2 separate regions of the Homo sapiens genome follow, and region 1 is reported to be linked to region 2. Evidence: microRNA targets listed by miRTarBase, many of them from high-throughput screens and not tested one by one. Region 2 holds a microRNA gene; the other region holds the end of a gene's coding sequence.

Evidence for each region. The annotated mature microRNA hsa-miR-4757-5p reads AGGCCUCUGUGACGUCACGGUGU and lies in region 2 at 2,542-2,564, opposite strand. An mRNA with a match to its seed (bases 2 to 7 or 8) in the 3' UTR can be bound and repressed. Matches are read on the target gene's strand: a 7mer-m8 pairs with bases 2 to 8, a 7mer-A1 pairs with bases 2 to 7 and ends in A, and an 8mer does both.
Region 1: miRTarBase lists TMEM184A as a target of hsa-miR-4757-5p. Seed matches in the 3' UTR shown: 7mer-m8 at 2,382-2,388 and 7mer-A1 at 1,526-1,532.

What each region holds. Positions count from the first base shown.
Region 1 is chr7:1,542,359-1,547,358 of GRCh38, forward strand. TMEM184A (transmembrane protein 184A) reads right to left here. Exons shown (of 9, transcript NM_001097620.2): 9 at 1-4,823. The coding sequence ends at 4,594. It overlaps MAFK (MAF bZIP transcription factor K), which reads left to right. Exons shown (of 3, transcript NM_002360.4): 3 at 1-685. Among named protein-coding and RNA genes, the nearest start is that of TMEM184A, 11 kb to the right of the region's middle. RefSeq lists an enhancer at 2,062-2,211.
Region 2 is chr2:19,345,830-19,351,002 of GRCh38, reverse strand. MIR4757 (microRNA 4757) reads right to left here and starts at 2,574; the gene lies at 2,498-2,574. It also overlaps a transcript of OSR1 not described here. RefSeq lists enhancers at 424-493, 2,817-2,946, 2,997-3,266, 3,417-3,476.

The DNA.
Region 1 (5,000 bases), not on the chromosome of region 2:
GCAAAGCGGAGGCCCGGGCTGCCCGCCGTCCCCCTTCATCTCCCCACGGACTGTACCAGGCAGCTGGGCCCCGCAGGACAGGCCGCAGCGGGTGGCCGGTTCTGTCCCGTCTTGGGGTTCTTGGTGTCCACGTCTTGTGGGCCGTGGGCTTCTACCTGCCCTTGGCCTGCAGTGCTTTGCTGGAGAAGGGACTCCCTGGTCCCCAGGGTGGACGGAGCCGCTGTCACCGCCCAGAGCTGGGCCGGGGAAGCACGGTGTGTTCTGCTTTTCTTTTCAGATTGTTGAAATTTCATTGTCATGATTTAATATATGGATTTTTTTATTTAAGAAAAAGACGAGGGACTCTTTGTCACGTGGGTTTGTTTTCTGTCTCCGTGCCTCCGGCTTCCCAAAGAGATCCAGGTCTTTGCGTTTCCAGGGCGTGGGGACCCCGGCCCCCTATGCCGCCACGCCGCCACACCGCCTCACCCTGGCTTCTGTGCTACTTGGCAGTTCCATTTCATTATTTATTTTTTGTGCTGCTTTTTATCATGATATAAATTATTGAAAACAGATCACATGTGGGCCCGTGTCTGGCCGCCGCCGCCCTGCCCCGTCCCTGCGGCCACCACCTAATTTATTGCCGTGCGTCCTGCTGCTGTGACTGCTTTTGTACCTTTGCAATAAAGAATTTTCTGGTTTCAGACCCTTTCGTTGCGTAGCTGGTGCTTTCAGCTGGGGCTTTCTTGGGCCAAGAACCACACCCCCCCCCCAATCCCAGGGGACCCTGCCTGTCCCTCACCGGGGTCAGGATCCGGGCACTACGTGTAAGTGGCTTTCCCGGACTGCTGGGCCGTGACCGTGAGGCTGGGACAGCCACGGGGGAGGTGCTGGTCAGGTGACCACGTCCTGGGCTCAGTCTCTGAGGGTCAGGCCGCAGTCCTGAGTGTCCCCATCTGCCCCACCCGGAGCCCCCTGTCCATGCAGCCTCTCCCTTCCAGTGGAAGGAGCAGAGAGCAGCACGGCTGTCAGTGTTCCCCTTCCCTGGGAGACATCTCGCCCAGCTTTGCTGGACTCTCAGAGGAGCCTGCAGGAAGCTGTGAGCAAGACAGGGTCTGTCTGGGAGCAGAGAGCAAAGCGCCCCTGCACAGTGGCCGGAAGCCCGTGGACTCCTCCGAAAAGCCACGGGCCTGCCCGCATGCCGTCCCCACCCCGCCCGGCCTTCCCCGTTTTTGGGGCTGAGCTGACCGAGGTGTGAACGCTGTTCAGTGCTGGACCACGCAGGGTGAAATCCCAACTCGAGTTTTTTGAGACAGTATCTTGCTTTGTCACCCAAGCTGGAGTGCAGGGGCGTGATCACAGTTCACTGCAGCCTCGACCTCCCAGGCTCAAGCAATCCTCCCATCTCAGCCTCCTGAGTAGCTGGGACCGCCGGCACGCACCACCACGCCCAGCTAATTTTTGTATTTTTTTTTTGTAGAGATGGGGTTTCACCATGTTGCCCAGGCTGGTCTCAGACTCCTGGGCTCAAGCAATCCACTCGCCTTGGCCTCCCCAAGTGCTGGAATTACAGGTGTGAGCCACTGCACCCGATCATAATCCCAACTCGCAGCATCTGTGTGGCCTGGGGCCAGTTCCCTCCTTCCCAGCCTTGCTTCCTGTGAGTTGGGTGTGGAGGTGAGTGTGCAACAGCTGGCACATAGCGCAGTGAGTGTTGAATCTGTGCTGGGGCCACAGCAGCCCGAGCTTGTCACTAGCAATGGCAGGGATGGCACTTTCCCCAGCTAAGTCAGACCTCCCTGCAGCCCACCCTGCGGCTCTGGGCCCAGCCTGCTCCTCCTGGGGGAGCCGACGGGTGTGAGTTGGGGGCACAGAGCCCCAGCCCTGTGTGGGGCTCCTGGAGGCTGCGGACAGACGGGGAAGCTGTGAAAGGAGACACCGCCCCGCCCGGCCATGCAGCCTGCACCCGGGCCAGGCCAGGGCCCCCAGGGCTTCCACCGTTTCTTGTGGATGCTGGGGATTTTCAGCTGGACCATCTCCCAGAGAAGGATACTGAGGCCAGGAGAGGCTAGAGAGCTTGGCGGGTGCGCTGGGCCCAGATACGCGGCTCCTGCCTGCCTCATGGCCTGCTCCTCTGTCGGGGCCTGTCACCGGGAAACCCCTTTTTTAGCAGCGATGACGACACTGGAACCACGCTAGTCTCCGTCCCTCCCGCTCACATGCGCCCACGCTCCCCCTCGAGGCAGGTTGAGCCCCGGCCTGGACCGCCCCACGCTGCCTTCCGTCCACGCAGAGCGGGCTCGGCCCTCAGGGCTTTCCTTCGAGTCGTGTTGGAAAGAAGCAGAAGCAGCCTCACCCGTGGGGCGGAGGCGTCTGAGGGTCAGGAGGCAGGGAGGAGAGAGGGCCTCTGTGGAGCCGGCTGCCTGGTGTCCAAGTCCCTGCTCTGTGACCTCAGGCAACTTGCTCCGTCTCTCTGGGCTCGGTCGCTGTCCCAGCTGGCTTGAGCGTTGAGCATGTCAGTTTCCTGGCACAGTCCTCGGCTGGTCTGAGGGGGCATTTGGCGGAAACTGACTTCTCCCCTGTCCTAAAGTGCAGGCCTGAGGTGTTGCTGACATAGGGGCTCAGCCCCTGACACCTCAGCCTCTGCCGCCCGGAGCCCAGGCGGTGTCTGGGTCTCCAGAAAGGGAGCCCTCGGCCACACACCCTCCAAACGCAGATTTGAGCAACTTGACCCCTATCGGGGTGGCCTTCCCCACGGCAAGGGCAGAGCAGGCCTAGAGCCCAGCCAGTGCCCCCAGCCTCCAGAAACTGCCCCTCGGCAGCAGGTCCCTGGGGACCTGCTGACAGAGTGAGACACGGGGGCCGCCTGGTGGGTCTATTCCTGTGGGGATCCAATAAGACAGGTGGGCGTCTTTGCAGCCGTGCAGGGAGGAGCTCAGCCTATCTTATCAGGCAGCCGGGCTGGGCCCTGCAGACCCACTGGCCTTGGATCCCCATGTCCTCAGCCCAGGAAGCAAGAGGCTGGGAGCTGGCCCTCTCTAGCCCGGACTCCACTGGTCTGTGCCCGCCCTGCTGAGTCCCTCGGAGACCCCAGGTCCCGCTGTTCCTGGTGACCGTGGCCATGGGTGGGGGGCAGCACGGGTGGGAGCCGCGGTCCCGGGGTGGTGCCCACTGGAGCTTCCTGTCTGCTCTCCACGCCCAGTGCCTGAGCCCCCCAGGCCTTGCCCACTTCTGCTGCCCCTGCCCCAGCCCCCACCCAACCTGTGCTGCGGGCCCCAGACACACAGAACTGACTGCCACCTGCAGGCCGGGTCACCGTACTGTCCCCTGACGGGCCCTGGGCCTGGGGGGCGCCCTGCAGTGACACCCCTCGCCCTGGGCCAGCCGTGTGTCCTCCCAGAAGCCCCCTTAGTCCCTGGGCGGCTACTGTTCTTGCGGCCGCGATTTCCGAGGCCACTTGCACGCCTCCAGCTTCCTGCGGGCAGGGCACGCGTCCGAGGCTCCTCAAACCCAGGGCCCCACCTGGCACGTGGAGGAAGAAGAGAAGGGCAGGAGGCAGGTGCCCAGGTGGGAGCCCCCTCTGTGCCCCCTGGGAGTGTCCCCCCCGCCCAGGTACTCAGGGCCCTGCCTTCGTGGCCTTGTCCGCTCGCCGCGGGTGGGGCTGGCACAAGGCCCGTTTTGGAGGAAGTGGAGGCTCCCAGGAGAAAGGCAGTGGCTGTGATCGCACAGCCCAGGCTCTGCCCTGCACTGCCCTGGACCACGAGGCTGCCCACCCCAGACAGGTGGGACCCCTTTCCCGCATGCAGACTCTGAGCAGCAGCCTCCTGTGACCCCCACCGCGTCCTGCTCCTCAGGCTCATGCCCTGCGGGAACAGAAGCCAAGACCCGGTAGAAAATCCAAGGTGTTTAAATATAAATAAGAGCGATTCCCACAGCCCCACGGTGCTGGCCAGCCTCACAGGTGCCCGCTGGTTCTGTGACCCATCCCAGGCACACGCTCCCCTGGCTGGGCGCCTGGCCAGGGCTCCCCTGTGGCTGGCGTGTGGAGACACGTGGGCCCTTCTCCACGTGCCCACGAGGGCCGTAGCAGGCTCCAAGGAGGCCCAGCCCCGGCCAGCCTGTGTGGACCCCGCCGGCCTGCGGCGCCCGGAGCTGCTGACTGTGTCAGAGCCCGGCTGCCCAGCGCCCCGGCGCCCCTCCCTCCAGCTGCCCAGCCTGGGATCCGTCCGCTGTCTGTCTCCTGAACCAGGGAGTCTGACCCACTCACAGCTCCCATGGGGTCCGTGCAGCCAAGGCCCCGCAGCCACACTCACTCTCCGCCCCACAGTGGCTCCTGGGGCTGATGGCTGGGTGATCCCAGGGGGTCCCCAGGCTCTTCCGATTGGCTCAGGTGCCCTCTCCTGCGGTGGCGGGCCCACCTGGGTGCCTGCCAGGGCCATCAGGTGCCCTGACCCCCTGGCTGGAGGGAGGATGGGAAGTGGGCTCCGAGGGCCTCACAGGTGGGCTCTCAGGAGAGGCCCCACCTTTGGCAGGAGTTGGTGGGTGGGGGGACCCTGTTCTTCCCCAGAGGCCTGGGCAGCCTGGGTCCCTACAGCACTGGCAGCCCAGGCCCCCCTACAGGTCCTCCGAGGGGATCAGCATCCGCTTCTCCAGGCTCCGGCTCTTCCTGCTCCCGCCGGAGCCGCCGCTGGGGTGGGTGCCGGGCCTGGGCGCCTCGTGCGTGGCCTGCTGCGTGTAGTGCTGGTAGGCGGGGGAGAAGTTGTGGATGGCGTCCTGCACGATGTCCTGGGGGCTCACTGTCTCCCTGATGCCGCTGGAGATGCTCTGCATGGGTGCCGGGGGGGCTGGGGGAGGGCAGTGTATGAGCCCCACCATCCCCCCTGCACTCCAGCTCCCCGGACAAGTCCCCTCCCAGGATGCCCAGGGCTGTAGCTCCTGCATGTCCAGGTCTGGCCTCGGCCAGCAGAGGGTGGCCCCAGACCCCTGGACCCCAGCCCAGCTTGCTCCACCCAGCACCGGGC
Region 2 (5,173 bases):
CCGTTCCCCGGGTCTCAACACTCGGGTGCAAATACACAATGACCGCTGCCTCCCCGGAACCCCAAACCAACATCACTCCCTCCCTTAGGGTCCCTCAGACACAATTCTCTGCTTGGGACTTGTCCCCTCCTAGGATCGAGGCTCTGCACCCGCGAAGATTCCCTACAATTTTAAAGCCTTGTCAGGAATGGTGGGGGCGGGCGCCCTGGGAGGCCCGGGACGCTTAGGAGGAAAAATTCGAGTCCGCCTTCCATAAGCTGAACCTTCCCTGGGGTGTCTAGTTTTCCCACAGTTAGAAGCCAGGCCGCCGGGGCTCTTCTCCTTGGGGCAAGGCGGGGCTCCCCCCAGCTCCAGCGCCCTGACCGCGGGACCGCGCAGGCGGTGGCGCCCGCGGCCTTTCCCAAGCGCAGGATGGCCTCTCCAGCTTCAGCGCCCGGAGCGCGGCGGCCGCGGATGACAACTGGACTATAAGCTTCCCTGCTGCAGGCACCAAAAATCCCAGCCTCAAGCCGGGCCCTGCTGGCTGAGAAAGCGGCAGGGGATGCAGAAGTTAAAACGCTCTGGGCTTTCACCACCCCATCCCCACCTCCTCCGGGAACGCTCCTGAGTCCTGTGCGGGCTAGAACTTCGAGGCCCGGGAACCCAACTGGGCACTGGAGGCTGGCCCTGCCGGCGCGGACCAGCCCTGGCCTCCACGCTCAGAGCCACGCTGCCCCCTGCTGGCCAGCCCTGGAGGGGCGGCCCAGGACTTGGCACCTCAAGGGGTCTTGCCCGCAACCTCGCGAAACCACCAAGCATCTATGTGTTTGGTCCCAAAATCTTGACTGGCCCCAGGACCCACTGTGGATGAGGGGCAGGGCGCTGCTGAGTCTGGTCTGGTCTGAGGGATCTTCATTAGTTGGGCACTATCCCAATCCTTCTTCCAAGCAGTTCACAAGGTCGCGCGCGGCCCAGGATTATGCCCCCATTCCTGAGAACTGGGGCCTCTGAGTGCGTGGAAGTGGGGCTAGCCAGTAGGTTTGCGGGTGGTGTAGACGGTCTGCGCCCAAGCGGCGCACGCAGGTTGTGGTGTGGTTTGTGCCTGACCATAGCTTGTACTAGGGTCAACTGCAGAATCTTCCTTGGTTTCTTTATGAAGCCCCAGGAGGCTGCGGGCCATGGTTGCTCCAAAACAACCAGAGTGCATGGGTGAACACACACACACACAGGGTGCCCTTCCTAGTCCCTTGGCTCTTTCTGGGATGCTATCCTTGGGGTTGTCTATGGCTGCTCTTCCCTAGCCCCTGACATCCCTCCACCTCCCAGAACACATCATTCCACCTCCCTGAAGATCGAGCCTCTGCAGTTCCCGGGGCCTCAGGAAGCTACAAATGCGGTGAAATGGGGAGGTTTGCCAGCCACGTTAATCCTTTTTGGGTCACCCCACCTCCAGCACTGTGAAAACCCACCCAGTCCAAGGTCTGCAACTGAATGTCAGTATCAAGTGTGCATCCTCAAAATAACAGATTTCCAGTGCAGAATTTTAAATTGGGGATGGGGAATGGAGGGTGGGACAGGATGATGCGCAGCAACTCCCTGGCCCTCTCAGAATGCCCCTATTTGCTCTACTGATGTTTGCTGTTATCCCGGTGGACTCAGAGATCACGTCTCCCTGCAGCTTGTTCTAGTGATTCATAGACTGTGCAGAAACAGTAACTACAGGTGGAAAGGCCGGCTGGGCCTGTGGGCCATCCGACCCTATCCAGGCTACAATTCCCAGGTGATGTGGTTGGTTGATGTGGTTGGAAACTAGTGCCCCAGTTTCCTGCTCATACTCAGTGTGGGTTGCACAAAAAGTGCAATTGAGAGGGTCAGAAATGTTGGGTGGGTTTCCTTGCCTGCCCCAATTTTTCCCCCAATGCATCTCTAGAAAGTCCCAGCTCTTGTCTCCTCTCCAGACCCCCATCACAATAAGCTTCGCTGGTCCCAGTGACTGTGTGGCGCTCAGCGTTGCTGGGGCTATTTTTCAGGAGAAAAAGAGGCCGATGGTGCTGGCCAGGTGGAGTTCAGCTGGGGCCCTTCTCAAAGCTGCTAGGCCTGAAGTTTTTGTGTACGGCTGGGGAAGCTATCTGGCCTAGGACAGCCTCTTGGGCAGGGAGGGCGGAAGGTGCCAGAGACCCTGGGCACAGCCCGGAACTGCCAGATGCTGTCTCCGGTAAGATATCAGGTGCTTCCAGGGAAAAGAACAGCTTGCAGGAGCTTCTTCCTGGGAGAGAGTGTTTCAGGTTCTACCCCCTATTTCCAGAGTGTAGTTAGGGGTTAGGGACCCACTAAAAAATGTTTTCCCGCGTACTTCCTTGCCGCGGAATTCACTGCTCACATTGTGGGGAGGGACGCAATGTGATGCTCTGGGACTCCCTGACGTGACCTCAGCTCCCAGAACCTGAGGACCTGATATCCTAAATCCCCTAGAATCTTGGTGTCCCCATAGCCGGCTCAAAAGAGTCCCGTCCCACCTCTCAGAGCGCGAAGCCTCTGTGACGTCATGGTCTCCTCCCGCAGACACCGTGACGTCACAGAGGCCTCGGGCTGGAACACAAGGCTTGAATGAGGTCCACAGAGGCATTCCATTACGTAACTTCGTGACGTCACAGATGGGCCCCGCCTCGGGCTAACATATCCACACCTCTCAGCCCCGCCCCGCCCCGCCCCGCGAATCGGCCCAGGCAGGCGCCACGAATCGGTTCGTCTCCACTAACACGATCCGCAGACCCGAAGCGTTGGCAGCTGTCCTGAGTGAAGGGCGGTGCCCTGCAGCGTCCTCTTCTTGAATCAGTGGTTTAGAGTGGTCTCCCTGCCCGCGGGGTTTCAGGGCAGCAGTTGCCGCGGCGTACTCATCCCACCCACTTCTGCGCCCACTATGGCCGCGCCCACTGCGGCCCCGCCCTCCTCTCCCACTGCGCAAGCGCCACGCGCAGGCGCAAAAGGAACTCGCAGGCCAGTGCTGCTGGTGCCGGAGTCCGGAAGCTGACGGCGGTGCGTGGAAATCGTCGCGGAGTTCAGTGTTTTGCTTTTGGGGATCACAAACTCAGGGGCACACTGGCCCGGCGGGCGCATCCAGCCGTTGGCGTATGTGTGGGCAGAAAATGCAGACGAGAAAGTGGGTGGCGCTTGGCTAATGCGGGCTGGAGCCCTTGACTTGGAGTGCCCAGTCCAGCGCCGCGGTCCTACAGAGGCCCCTGGGATCTGAGCTGGCGAGGGTGGCGCGGCGGGTCCTACCCAAGGCCAGAAAGTTCGCTGCGGTCCCAGCTCTTTTGGGCAGCCTCTCTGAGGTAGAGCTCTCAGACGGTCTTCAGCCCGGTGGAACGCCCTGGTGTCCCACTCCACCCGTTCATCCCGACTTCCTGGGCCGTCTCTAGAGCCCAGTTGGTAGTTGGGCCCAGTTGGCATATGTTTCAGATGAAAAATTCATTACGGACTTGAGATGCTAGGTTGGAGACAAATCTCATGTCAGTGGCAGAGAAAGAATTCGAAGCTGTGCTTTCATTGAGGGGAAGGGCCAGAAGACCCAGCTCTAGGTTTTTCTGACAAGCACAAGTTTTGGGGAAGTCCCTGTGCTTCACTAGCCTCAGTTTTCTTCCTATAATGGGGGTAGGGCTTTTCCTACCTACCTCATTCACTTTGTGTAGAGTTAAAAGTAATACACATTTTGCCAATAATGTATTCACTGCTTGAACCAAAAACTACCCTAATGTGTTGTAGAACAACTTTGGCATGTATGAAGGCCTTGTAAATGTTGATGATGATGATGCTTAGAAATGCCTCTCAGCATTTTGACGTAGCCTGCCTCCCAACCTACTGTATTCCCAGGAGATACCACCCCCATCTTTATTATAACAGAGGCATCCTGAAATGAAATGAGAGAGGAAGAATATCACTGAACTGGTGGACTTCTTGAAACCCCCGGCAAAAAGCCTTTTTTCAATGACGTAGGGAGCAATGGATTAATCAGTTCACAAATTGTTATGTTTGGTTGGGATGATGTGTCATGGCCCTATGTCAGAGCGCTACTCACCACACGTTTGTGGAACCCAGGGAGTTAAAAAACAACCTATGGCGACTGAGGTGTGGAGCTGGGGAAGGAGCCTATGTACGTATGTGGCAAGTGTGACTGCAAAGATAGGGAAGTGCTTAAACACAGGCTTGCAGAGTGAAAGCTTCCTTGTGGATTTGTGTTTTCTTATGATTGATTGATTGAAACAAGTTCTCCCTCAGTTGCCTAGGCTGGATTGCAGCGGTGCGATCAGGACTCATTGCATCCTCAACCTCCCCGACTCAAGCAGTCCTCCCACCTCAGCCTCCTGAGTAGCAAGGCTACAGGTGTGTGCCACCACGTCTGGTAATTTTTTCTACTTTTTTTGTGTAGAGACGAGCTCTTGCTATGTTGCTTAGACTGGTCTTGAACTCCTGGTCTCAAGTGATCCTCCCACCTTGGCCTCCCAAAGTGCTGGGATTACAGGCGTGAGGCACCATGCCTGACCCATTTGTTTTCTTTGACTTGTGTTAGAGCATCCTAGTCTAAAGAAAAAGTGGCCACACAATGTTCTTTATGTGGACTTCTGCAGGAATGGTCCTCTCACCCAGTCACCCAGTCCTGGCAATTTGCTGCCATTTTTTTTGGTCATTTTTCCTGGCTAAGTCTAGTTCCAGCTCCAGAGATTAGAATATGAAAGGATTAACCCCCCAAAATGGGATGGAGGGATGAATGAGTTGAAAGTTTTTGTTTCCCTTTTCCAAACACTGAGTTGGCTCTCATCAGCACAGCTGTCTCTGGGGATGTATAAAGCGTAATTAATACATTTTAAATGTTTGGTTTCAACTTTTTTTGCTAGTGAGATAAGATAAGGAGTTTTTGTCATGACAAGGGAAGGGGTGGATTTCTTTCTATCATTTGCAGGAGTGGGTACCACTTGGATCCTGTAGGTAGACAGTTGCATGAGATGATAAACTTTATAGGGGGCATGGAAGAAAGCCAGTGGAGATGGGGAAGGAATGGCTAGACTCTTTAGCTTCCTGACAACCAGAGGGGGAAAATGAACTTCCAGAGAATTTGGGTTTTGCCTTAAATATTGAAATTTGCTTGGGCATTTGGTCCACTTCTTAATTAACCTGGGTCCAGAACTGAATGTCTTTG